Linked DNA regions of Homo sapiens: all the other regions are linked to region 2. Evidence: fine-mapped expression QTL. A gene starts in region 2. Each other region holds a variant in brackets. All regions are shown on one strand. Distances are from middle to middle.

Region 1 (4,246 bases), 80 kb after region 2:
TCTAGTTCCCCTTCTAGCAATAGAACTCCTCTCTCCAATTCCCTCTGGTTCAGGTGAACCTGATGACATTCACCCCTTACATACAGGTGACAGTTCAGACCATCCCATCCCTCTGACCACAGTGATTATTTCTGGACTGGGCATATGATCAAATTGGGCCCATTCCTGGAAATTTCCTGACATAGCTGTCTTGAAAAACTGACTTGCACTGGTGTTGCTAAGCTAGCAGGATGTGAATCTGGATCTCAGTGGTCATCTTGGCCGTCATGTAGAGAGGACTGTTCAGAGAGAGAAAGAGCCTTAATGTCACTTAAGTGTCCCAAATCCTTCTGAAATCCACCTACACCGCTGACCTTTCCAATTACAGAACCAATTATCTACTTTTTTGCTTAAACTTGTTGGAATTGGATTTCATTACTTACAACTGAAAGAAGTCCACCAACTTCTAGTGTTATAATAGGGGAAGTTCAGGATGATATGGGAACACATAGAAATAGTACATATATAAATTGTCTTGTAATTTCCATATGCATTTGTAGTATCTTTCAATGTTTATTACATTTTAAACATATTTACTCAAACTGCTTTTGGTTTTATTTCAAAGTTATGACATGTAAAACGTAGAAGGAAGGGAGGAGTGGTAAGAGGAAATCTGAGAATGCTGATTTTCTTATGGCAGGGAATTAAAGGTGAAACATATATTTAAAAAGCATGACTCCAAACCAATAAGTAAAGACAAAAGACCTGATCAGCCTCTTCACAAAAAAGAATAAACACAAAGGGCCAACAAACATATGACAATGTGCTTAATTTCATTAATCATCAGGGAAATGCATATTGAACACAATGGGCTAGGCTACTAAACCACACCCTCCAGAATGTTTAAAATTAAAAAGACAGAGAATATCAAGCATTGGTGAGGATGTGTAGCATCAGGAACCCTCTAAGACTGCTGGTAAGGTTATAAATTGGTACTTTGGAAAATGGACAATATCAACCAGTCCTGAACATGTGCACACTCTCTACCCAGTAATTCTGCTTTAGTTATAAACGCAAAAGAAAGAAGACACAGAAAGAAGAGCAGAAGACATATGAATGTTCATAGCAGCACTATTCATGCCAGCCAAGAACTAGAGACACTGAAATGCCCATCTACAGAATGAATTAATCATTATTCACATAATGGGAAATTGCGCAGTAATGACTATGAATTATGAACAATTATGCAATAATATAATTAATCTCACAAATATAATGTTGAGTGACAGAAGCTAGACCAAAAGAATATATCATGTATCATGTATGATTCCACTTACGCAAATTATAAAAACAGGCAAAACGAACTGATGCTGTTAAAAGTCAGGCACGTGGTTACCCTTGAGCAAGGGGTCATGACTGGAGGGTGGCAGGAGGAGGGGCTTATGGAGTGCTGGATATTCTCTGTTTCTTGATCTAGGTGCTAGTTACACAATGTGTTCAGTTTGTGAAAATTCATTAAGTTATATACTTAATGTGCAGTTTTCTGTATGTGGACTATATTCCATTCAAAGGTATAAAAAGTTAAACACATGACTCCCAGCTCAATGTTTTCCAAAATCTTTGTTCTTAATTTCAAGTGAATTTATTAGAACTTCTAATGGTAAAAAAATCATTTACTTGAAATTCAGCAGTATTTTAAATGTCATCTCATCTTCCTTTTAGTCAGTTAATTTCAAGTGCATTTTAATACTTTTTATTTAAAATGCCACATACAAAACAGTTCTACTTTTTATAAAACTGTTTTTCTCCTTTTTCTTTCTTTTAGCCCTCTTCCATTTGTGTATGTACCTAGGGAGACGACT[G/A]GATGATGTTCACCAAATGTTAACTATCGTTAAATCCAGGAGATGGGATGTGGGGTGCATTTTTAAATTTTCTCTCTGGACTCTGCTATCTAGTTTGAACTTTTTATGATGCGCATACATACATATCATTTCTATAAAAACATTAAAACAATTTCTTTATAAAAGAAAAGCTGATCTTATATCTTATGCCTGCATTCAGCCATACCTATCAGAAAGGAAGATTCCTAGGAACCTATTCTACACAAAATCTGATTATAGTGACATAGCTCCATTCAGGCAGTTTGGGAGTCATCTCTGTCATCTCTCAGTGGGGTGCGTTCATGCTGGCATTTTGTACACAGCCTTCTGTTCACATTTAATGGAAATATGTAGGATGATCTCATAGGGGAGAGACTGCCCAGACACTTTCAAAGGTTTTATGTTTGATTTTTAATTCAGCAATGTGGGAAAGAACGATATTCAAATGACAGTGATATTATAACTGGTTTCCATATAAAGCAAAGGGAGGCACCTTAAAGTCCTCATATCAATCCTTTCTTATTATTTTTTAGAGTCTGATATTTCTTGTTCGAGACTGGAGTTTCCCATACGAATTTTCATATGGAGCCGATGGTGGTGCCAAATTCTTGGAAAAACGCCTCAAGGTTTGTTAGATATTTAGGTGCATGAAATTTCACTAATAATCTGGAATTATTTCTGTTGGATCATTTGGTGAATAGATACTCAGTAGCCACTAGCCGCAATCTCATTTGTTATCGATATTAATGACACAGGTGAAGAATTCTTTGTATATATCTATAAAACAATAAGTTACTCCTAAAGATAAAACTTTTACTTTGAAGAATTAAATCACTTCAAGACTGACAGTGCAAATATCAAGATTCAGGTTTTAATAGAGGTTTCAAAGCCAGTGTAACAAATATCTAATTTTGAAATCCCTGGAGTCAATCTTAGAGCACAGAATGTAAAATTAGAAGACCTTCCACTTTCTGTGTCGTGCTGGTTCAATACTGTACAAATTGTTACACTGAGCAGATATCACCAAAAGTGCCTACTGGGAAATCAGGGGAGAAAGATCAAAATTTACAAAAATGTTCCTTGAAAATTGGGATCTCTGAACTTATTAGGTTTACAGTCATAAAAGTTTGTCTGTATTAAAAACTATCAAATATGTATTTACATAAAGTGGGAGGTGAGGGTGATTTAGCTTGTAAGTAAACACCCAACTATTCAGATTCCATTCTAGAATTTAAATGTACACTTACCAGGTGATAGGAGGCTGCCTTGAATATCTACTAAAAAGAAAGTAGAAATATCCTACTTTCTCTTTGTGGCTCCTACGAGTGCTTTGAATTAAAATTTGAATTTGTAGAAACTAGCCAGATTAAAACCCCACTAATTTGTATTAAAAAATGGGAAGGTCCATGTGAGTTAGCATAAGGGTAGACACTTGTTAATTAAAACTATGCCATGCGTTTTCTATACTTAGACACGGCTCTGTGTGGGCAAACCCACCCAAGACTTTCTTCTTTCTTTAGTAGCAGCCCTGTCGTGTCATTTTCATCATTGTGGGACCAAACAGACATAGCAAATATAAGATGCCACAGAATTCCTTTGCATAATTTGTGATGAAAGTAGTTTAAACTTCAGAATGATTTACTGCAGGTCTCAGGGAACCAGCATGAAGAACTACAGAACGTCAGAAAACACATCCATTCCTGTTTCACCAACATTTCCTGTTTTCTGCTACCTCATCCTGGCTTAAAAGTAGCTACCAATCCAAACTTTGATGGAAAATTGAAAGGTTTGTGTCTTTTAATGAATATGTTTGCATCACTTAGTCTGATTATAAAAATGTCATTTTATCTATTGGGCTTATGGCTGATAGTTTAGTTTATCCACTGATAGGAGGCTGATGATTAGAAATTGTCAGGAGAATAGGGCATCCTGGGCTGGTGCTCCTCCTTGGTGAACTGTGGGATTCTATGGGCGCTGGATGTATACACTGCCTGCAAAAATAGGCCGGATCCTGAGTTCACCCAGAAGGCAGTAACCCTCACCTTCTTATCTCTGTGCACTGAGAAGTGCTCCTTAATATTTTTAGGCTTAATTTTCCTTATCTACATGAAAAAGGAAAACAGATGTCTATAGTATTGGAATTCTGTATTAAGTTATGTAATTAGAGATTGAAAGAAATGCTCTTTAAAACTGCTCCTAAAGAATTTAATTATAAATTATTAAAAACTTCACTAAAAATGAAATCTTGTGTGGAAGAAGAAGAGGACCAGTGTCTTAAAAGAAAAGCACTAGAGTGTTTTTCAAATAGTGTATACTTATAGGATGTAATTATGTCTTTAATAGAGGACTGATTGTTACATGATTCCAAAGCAGCTTGACTTGTTAAA
Region 2 (4,246 bases):
AAGAGGATTGTTACAAACATACACTTTGAGTTCAAAGGTATTCACAAGGTAAGAGCCAGAACCTTGCTCACAATTCATCACCTCAGTACCTCTACCAGTGCCTGGTACAGAAGACTCAAATGCTTGTTTAAGCAATAAAAAGCCTATCCATTACAGTTTATCTCAGTAGAATCAAACAGTGCTAGGGCTGTTTGATAATACCACTACCTTGAAATGCTAATATTAATTAGGAGGAAATTAAAAGTAAGTAGAAAGAGGGGAACCACCTGTGCAAAACAACAACCTAACCCCAGAGGAATCTACTGGTTAATTACCCAAATGACACAAAACCACTTCAGCGATATGCAGAAGTGTTGTTTGGCACAATGCGATATATATCATGATCAAATCCAATAAACAACGCCGTTGCAAAAAGCAAAGGAATTTGCCCTTAATATTCATAGGCTGCACTAATGCTCCCTTTTTGGAACACACAACAAAAAGCATAAGGCAATCTCAATCTCTTTCCTCTGAACCATTCAAGAACTCAGCGGATTTGGGGAATTGGGTTTGCTTCTCTACAATGTTTTTTAAAATCCTAAATTAGGTGTAACTTACTCTCATCGTTTGTCTTAAGTAATACAAAACAGCACAATACAAAGACAGCGGCTCATATCCACTCTTGGTTATAGGATGTTATAAATCCCTGAAAGGAACCGCTAAAGTAAAACAAAACCCAGCAAGTTAATATCACATTTTTATCGCCAACCAAAAACAAACGATCAAACTTCCACCAGGAAAAGCATCTTTTTATATGGGATAATGCTTGCATAAATGTCACCAATATTAGTTTGCTTACAGTTAAAGCTCAGAGACAGGGTTTCATATGGCTTTTTTAGTCAAACTCATCCATTGAAACAAATTTTTTTAAAAAAATGCAAATGTCTGAATGTCAATATTCTTTCCTGTCTATCTTCCATGAAGCATTTTTCCATGCTAACACTAGAGCATCCTTCGGTGTAATTCCACAAGCAGATTCAAATTCCCTTCAATACCATAAATAAGCCCTATTAAAAAGCCTTTAAACCACAAAAAAAGTGCAACAGCGGTTTGCAACTGTGTGGTTAGTTCTGCCTGTTGGTAGCGATTAGAACAAGCCATGAGTCGAGGGTGCTCAGAACCGAGTAAAAGGGACCCCGGCCGCTTTCTCCCCAAGAGGCAACAATAAAAGCATCCTCCTCTCGCCCCAATACTTCGCAGGAAAGTGGCCCCATTCCCGGGACCCAGTCGACCGCAGGAAAAAAGCACGGCCAGCCTCACTTACCTTATAGACGTCCCCGTAGGTGCCGCTGCCGACCCTCTGGACGAGTTCGTAGTCCTGCTGCGGGTTCCGCCTCAGGATGTCCGCGGCAGGCCGCAGCGGGGCCTCCATCTTCACTTAGGGCCCGGCCCCCGCCAGCTCACCCCGCGGCTCCCGGATTCCCGCTAACAAGCACGAACGGCGCCGCTTCCCAACATGGAGCCTCCGCCCGCAGCTCCGTCTGCACGAGGGACGAGCAAAGGCTGGTTGGCGTCGCAGGCTACGACCCCCAGCGGCCCGCGCCCTCGCGGCCCGGCCCCTTCCCTTCCGTCCCGCCAGGGGCCGTGGAAGAGAAAGGGGCCTGGAAGGGCCCCCGGCGCCCCGTATCCCCGTTCGGTCTGCGGCCCTTCCCCCTCCCCGGCCGCCCGCGAACTGCCCGACGAGGCCTCCCCGCCAGCCGGGGCCCAGGGCCGGCTCCGTACCTAATGGGGGCGGCCCCGTCTTTGTTGAGCGCGGAGCCCGGGACCTACTTCCTAGACCGCACCCGCGTCCTCCTCCCGCGCGCCGGCCGGCAGCTCCGGGTTTGCCGTCGCCGCCGCCGCCACTCAGCCGCTGCACGGCGCGTCCTCTCGGGGGCGGCGGAGGCGCGTACAGTCGCCGCCGCCGCCGCCGCCGCACCACGTTCCCCACCCGGGGCTGCGTCACCGGGAGACACGTTCCCAGCCAGCATGGGTCGGCGCCCAGCGGCCCGCCCGAGCACTCCGGCCGCAGAACCAGAGTGCCGCCCTGAGGCCTGCTGAGAACACAACACCCTCCCGACCGCGCCACCGCGCCCCCCTAGCCGGGCGCGTCCTTGCAGGGCCTGGGCTGTCTCCCTCCCACTCTCAGAAATAAGGCACACGCCTGGGCATTCGTGGGCCAACGGGCCTTGGCTAAACCGTCCCCACATTTGTCAGGTAGGCCTGTAGGGTGACGGGTAGAGGAAGAAGGGCGATGGGAACGTAGCCCTCCAAGTTAAACACGGAAAAGGTACGTTAAGGGCACCGGGCCAGAAGTAACCTGGCAGCGGGGCGCCGGGGAAGGAGGTGGGGGAGTGCCAGGTTAACTAAGTCCCGGCACACCCTACTGCACCTTCCTGTTTTGCAAACCGATCCCGGTGGTACCAGTTTGAGGCTGCACTGCACACCTGCACAACCTGCCTTCTACTTAGTTCTTCTGAGACATTTCTGAAAGTCTGAATTCCTAGGACTGCTCAATGACCTTTGTCCCTGTTGGGCACACGCAGTGTCTCATCGCTGGTATTGCACCTTTAATGAGACCAGGAGTTCCGCAAAAGTAAAACAAAGGGGTCACAGACTGGTTCTGGTTCTACCACTTCCTCAGTATGTGCTCTGGGACAAAACAGCATATTTGGCAACATCTCGGTGTCCTTATCTGCAGCTTGAAGAGGGTAAGATTTTGCATCTGACACCCAGGAAAGTGTTTATAAAGCGTTTTACAGGATAGTAAGGGGGGTTATCGAATATAAGAGGTCTTAAAATACTTAACAATGCACAGCATATATGGAACAGGAGTTCGGGGAAGTAATTTGGCTGATATTTCACAAGCTGTTTTGCAGTTTCAGTTCCAGTCTTGCTCTGAAGGTAGAAATTAAGTTGCCAGTGTTACATTATACTGGCTAAGTTATTTCTAGAGCCTCATAGAGAATTTGAACAGAAAAGCCAGATAACACTCAGCCACTGCATTTAGTGACTGAAACATCATAAAAGAGCAAGTTGGAGATGTTGGCTTGTGGCTTTGAACATCCAATTTTTAATTCTGCTCTTGAGAATTAAAATACTCCTTATTGTTGATAATTGTATAATGTATAATAAGGAGTAATTGACAATACTCCTTATTGTTGATAATTGTATAATGTAGAAATTAAATTCGCACCTTAACAGGACAGGGCATATATGTATTTTCTTGTGCTCCACACACAAAGGGCACTTATTTGGGGAACATAAGTAAGCCCAGACTTACATGCTCCATGGACAAAGCCTATGTGTTTGCTGCATTGAAAAAATTGTTGAAGAACAGTTCCTTCTTTCAAAGATTCTTGGCACTTGTTTTGGTGGGCACATACTTTTGGCTTCGATGACTCAAAATCTCTTCAAATGTTCTATTGGTATCTTAGCACTTGTTTACTGTCATAGATTCATTTGAGATTTTTTTCCTCTGGCCATATAAGCACTGATCCTTTATCTAGTCTGAAATATATTTATTCTTACATGTTTACACTTGCGTTACTCCAGGGAATTTCAGGCAGCACACAGAAAACACTTACTATAAAACAAGATAAAAATAAGTGGGCAAACTAGTATGACGTTAAAGAGAAGGAAAATACGAAACCAGAACAGTGTGACAAATCGGCCAACCAGAGGATTTTATAGTGTTTTTGAGATCAAGAGTAACCAATTGATCAAGAAGAGGCATATATTTTCCTAATGCAAAGACTTCCAAAAATTTTATTTAATGAGCCTTCTTCATAAAGTAGAAACTGAATGCCCAGTTTGAGACGAGGACAAATATCCTGACAATCCTTTAAGCATGTTATTCTTGAAATACAGCATTTAAAATGAATTAGGCAGTGAAATGTTTGAGGTCATAGGCTTCAACAAGACCCTGGAGTGCGGATATTTTATGTTGCCAGTAATGGCAGATCCATATGCTTTGACCATCAACCTAGAGGCAGATAGCATGGAAAAAGTCAAGACTCTATGTGGTGGTTAAAAAGTCGAGACTCTATGTGTCTGCTATAATCATTATTTTACTTGTACTGCAATTCATGCAAAGAGGAAAACATTTGTTTTATACTAACTCCAAAAGAATCTTAAGGATTTTTAAAATACTGGTTGAGTTAATTTTAACAAGATCAGTGAAGTGGGTTGCTTTGTAAAGAAATGCAAATTCAATTTACTTAAATGT
Region 3 (4,246 bases), 120 kb before region 2:
AAGATAATCATGGTGGTAACTAATCCAGGAAGACTTAGCTTTAAGAAACATGACCAGGATAAAGTCAGATACCCAAAATCAAATGTCACATTTACAGTGTGCTAAATATTACACTTAGCAAAATTACTGAGGAAAGAATATGTGGTTGAATATCATGATGATTTAATGAACCATTTCACTCAAATGCGGTGAGTGGTTTTGCTTTTTTTAAGCTTCACCAAGTGGTTGTTTATGGTATACAGGACATCTGGTGTTTTTAGCAGTCCAGCATCCATTTGAAGGGAGCATTTATCTGATAACCAATTAAGCTGAATACATTTTCACATATTTATTGATTACTTGGATGCTATCTTTTGTGGAATGCCTGCTCGAAATCTTTTGCTCTTTTTTCTACCGGGTTGTCCGCCTTTTCCTTATTGATTGTAGTTCTTAATGTCTTCTGGGAGATCTTCTGTGGCTATATGTAATACAAGCCTCTTTTTCCATTCTGTGGCTTGTCTTCATTTTTATAAAATGAAGATTTTCTCTACTCGTCTTGAGTAGAGAAAGTATTTTACCAACTTTTATTTATTTATTTATTTTTTGAGACGGAGCCTCACTCTTGTTGCCCGGGCTGGAGTGCAGTGGCGCGATCTTGGCTCACTGCAACCTCCACCTCCCAGGTTCAAGCAATTATCCTGCCTCAGCCTCCTGAATAGCTGGGATTACAGGTGTCCACCACCACGCCCAGCTAATTTTTGTAGTTTTCGTAGAGACGGGGTTTCACCATGTTGGCCAGGCTGGTCTTGAACTCCTGACCTCAAGTGATCTGCCCACCTCGGCCTCCCAAAGTGCTGGGATTACAGGTGTGAGCCGCCATACCAACCTTTTTATAGTCAAAACTTAATGTTCTGTTCAAAAAAATCTTTGCAGACCTCAAGTTCATGAAGATATTTTCTTTTAAAAATGCTATAGTTGGTATCTCAATGTGGTTTTGATTTGCATTTCTCTAATGACCAGCGATGATGAGCTTTTTTTCATGTTTGTTGGCTGCATAAATGTCTTCTTTTGAGAACTGTCTGTTCCTATCCTTTGCCCACTTTTTGATGGGGTTGTTTTTTTCTTGCAAATTTAACTTCTTTGTAGATCTGGATATTAGCCCTTTGTCAGATGGATAGATTGCAATAATTTTCTCCCATTCTGTAGATTGCCTGTTCACTCTGATGGTAGTTTCTTTTGCTGTGCAGAAGCTCTTTAGTTTAATTGGATCCCATTTGTCAGTTTTGGCTTCTGTTGCCATTGCCCTTGGTGTTTTAGTCATGAAGTCTTTGCCCACGCCTATGTCCTGAATGGTATTGTCTAGGTTTTCTTCTAGGGTTTTTATGGTTTTAGGTCTAACATGTAAGTCTTTAATCCATCTTCAGTTAATTTTTGTATAAGGTGTAAGGAAGGGATCCAGTTTCAGCTTTCTACATATGGCTAGCCAGTTTTCCCAGCACCATTTATTAAATAGGGAGTCCTTTCCCCATTTAGACCAGTTAGAATGGCGATCATTAAAAAATCAGGAAACAACAGATGCTGGAGAGGATGTGGAGAAATAGGAACACTTTTACACTGTTGGTGGGAGTGTAAATTAGTTCAACCACTGTGGAAGTCAGTGTAGCGAATCCTGAAGGATCTAGAACCAGAAATACCATTTGACCCAGCAATCCCATTACTGAATATATACCCAAAGGAATTAGAAAAAAAATTTAAAAGCCCCATGCTAAGTCCACCAATATGTGACATACTGAAAGGAACAGTTAAAGAATGAAAACATACCTATGCCCTTAGTGAACTTCTTGGTGAAAAATAAATAAGTCAACTTTTTTTGTTTTTCTTGAGTTACTGCTATGAGCGGGAAACTAATCCACATTATGTCCTTTAATCCTCCTAACAACCAATGAAGGGGCCATTATTTCCAATCAACAGAGAAAAAGATGGAGGCCTAGACAGGTTGAATAAGTTGTCTAAGGTAAGTGCTAAGTGGTTTGGCTAGTAGGTAACAATTGAATGTTACACTGAAATGTACAATCCATATGTGCTGTAGAAATTCTGAGAAACAGAAAACGATTTGGATTTGGATTAAGTGGTCAGAGCTGTCATAGAAAAGTTATGGCTTGAACTGAGTATCATTAAGGTAAAGGATTTAAGGTTTGATAAAATAAATCAGAACTGTAGGATGGAAGAGCCATTATGAGCCCAGCAATGAAACTGGAGTGATCATGGCCTCTATGTGGCCAGTATCCCAGGGTGCTTGGCAGAATAGTGGGAGAGAAGGCTGGAGAGGAGGCTTAGCCAAAGAAAAGAAGTTTGATGAAACTGCTTTTTCTCACAAGACCTTATGGGATTTACTTCACCTAGCTTTTTGTCTCCAGCTACTTTTGCCTCCTTCCACATGACGCATACATTAGCTACGCTCAA[T/C]TGATATTTATTGAATGCCTACTGTGTACAAAGTACAGTGTAAGAAACTGGCTTTGTCACACTGTTCTGGTCATGCAGGGGTTCATGCTTTTATTTAAAGTTACATTTTTCTTTAACATGAAAAAAATCAAATGTATGCATGCACATAAAGAATCAAATAGACCTGTAAAAGTTTGTTATCACAAAGCATGCCCTTCCATCTCTCTCCTCAAAAACAACTTTTCATTATTTTGGCAGATTATATTATCCCCATGCCACGAAATAATGTTCTTGATTAAAAAAACTTCCTGGCCGGGCGCAGTGGCTCACACCTGTAATCCCAGCACTTTGGGAGGCTGAGGCGGGCGGATCACAAAGTCAGGAGATCGAGACCATCCTGGCTAACATGGTGAAACCCCATCTCTACTAAAAATACAAAAAAATTAGCTGGGCATTGTGGCGGGTGCCTGTAGTCCCAGCTACTCGGGAGGCTGAGGCAGGAGAATGGCGTGAACCAGGAGGCGGAGCTCGCAGTGAGCCGAGATCGCGCCACTGCACTCCAGCCTGGGCGACAGAGCAAAAGACTCCGTCTCAAAAAAAAAAAAAAAAAAAAAAAACCCAAAGCCTCCTAAGTGAAATTTTGTATCCTTTAACCAACATCTCCCCATCCCCAAACTAAGATCCCCCAGCACAGCTCCAGGCCCTGGTAACCACACTTCTACTCTCTACTTCCATGAGTTCTGCTTTTTCAGATTCCACATGTCAGTGAAATCATGTGGTATTTGTTGGTCAGTGCCTTGCTTATTTCACTTAACATGATGTCCTCTAGGTTTATCCATGTAGTCACAAATGACAGGATTTCCTTCTCTTTTTCAAAGCTGAATGGTATTCCATTGTGTGTATATACCCTATTTTTTTTTTTTTATCCATTCATCCACTGATGGACACTTAGGTTGATTTATTTGGTTACTGTGAATAATGCTGTGATGAACTTGGGTGCGCAGGTAACTCTTCAACATACTTATTTCATTTCCTTTGGACACATACCCAGTAGTGGGATTGCTGGATCACAGAGTTCTATTTTTAATTTTTTTTGACGACCCTCCATACTGTTTTCCTTAATTGCTGCACTAATTTATATTCCTACCAACAGTGTACAAGGGTTTCCTTCTCCAGCATTTTTTTTTTAGACAGTGCCTTGATCTGGTGTCTAGGCAGGAGTACAGTGGTGCGACCATAGCTCACTGCAGCCTCTAACTCCCAGGCTCAAAGGATCCTCCCACTTCAGCCCCCCAAGTAGCTGGGACTGCAGGCATGCCCACCACACCCAGGTAATTTTTCTTAAATTTTTTTTTTTTTTTTTAATAGAGACAGGGTCTTGCTATGTTTGCCCAGGCTGGTCTCGAATTCCTGGCCTCAAGCGATCCTCCCGCCTCAGCCCCACAAAGCACTGGGATTACAGGCATATGCCACCACAGCCTCTTTCATTTTTTTGATAATAACAGTGTGAGGTGATATCTCATTAATTTGCATTTCCCTGATTAGTGACATTGAGTATTTTTTCATGTATCTGTTGGCCATTTGTTTTTTTTTAGACGGAGTCTTGCTCTGTTGCCAGGCTGGAGTGCAATGGCACAATCTTGGCTTACTGTAACCTCTGCCTCCCAGGTTCAAGCGATCCTCCTGCCTCAGCCTCCCGAGTAGCTGGGACTACAGGCGTGCGGCCATCACGCCCAGCTAATTTGTTTGTATTTTTAGTAGAGACGGGGTTTCACCATGTTGGCCAGGACAGTCTCAATCTCTTGACGTCATGATCCACCCGCCT

Alleles and levels. Alleles are on the strand shown, and positions count from the first base shown. SD is a standard deviation of normalised expression in the study named. Not every link is listed here.
With allele T in place of C in region 3, the expression in monocytes after LPS of the gene that starts at base 1,931 in region 2 is higher (moderate effect, 0.43 SD a copy in Fairfax 2014).

What was found. PIP is the estimated chance that this variant, and not a neighbour inherited with it, causes the effect. A credible set is the group of variants that fine-mapping cannot tell apart.
Region 1: its variant is the best candidate, but not a certain one, in a credible set for the expression of MAP4K5 in whole blood (TOPMed, PIP 0.58).
Region 3: its variant is the best candidate, but not a certain one, in a credible set for the expression of MAP4K5 in monocytes after LPS (Fairfax 2014, PIP 0.60).

What each region holds. Positions count from the first base shown.
Region 1 is chr14:50,610,867-50,615,112 of GRCh38, forward strand. ATL1 (atlastin GTPase 1) reads left to right here. Exons shown (of 14, transcript NM_015915.5): 7 at 2,393-2,485; 8 at 3,507-3,645. Among named protein-coding and RNA genes, the nearest start is that of ATL1, 53 kb to the left of the region's middle. The variant G/A (reference allele first, on the strand shown) is at 1,842.
Region 2 is chr14:50,530,639-50,534,884 of GRCh38, forward strand. MAP4K5 (mitogen-activated protein kinase kinase kinase kinase 5) reads right to left here and starts at 1,931. Exons shown (of 33, transcript NM_006575.6): 1 at 1,810-1,931; 2 at 1,304-1,520. The coding sequence starts at 1,411. It also overlaps a transcript of ATL1 not described here. RefSeq lists a silencer at 1,625-2,254.
Region 3 is chr14:50,411,317-50,415,562 of GRCh38, forward strand. No RefSeq gene overlaps it. Among named protein-coding and RNA genes, the nearest start is that of CDKL1, 17 kb to the left of the region's middle. The variant T/C (reference allele first, on the strand shown) is at 2,443.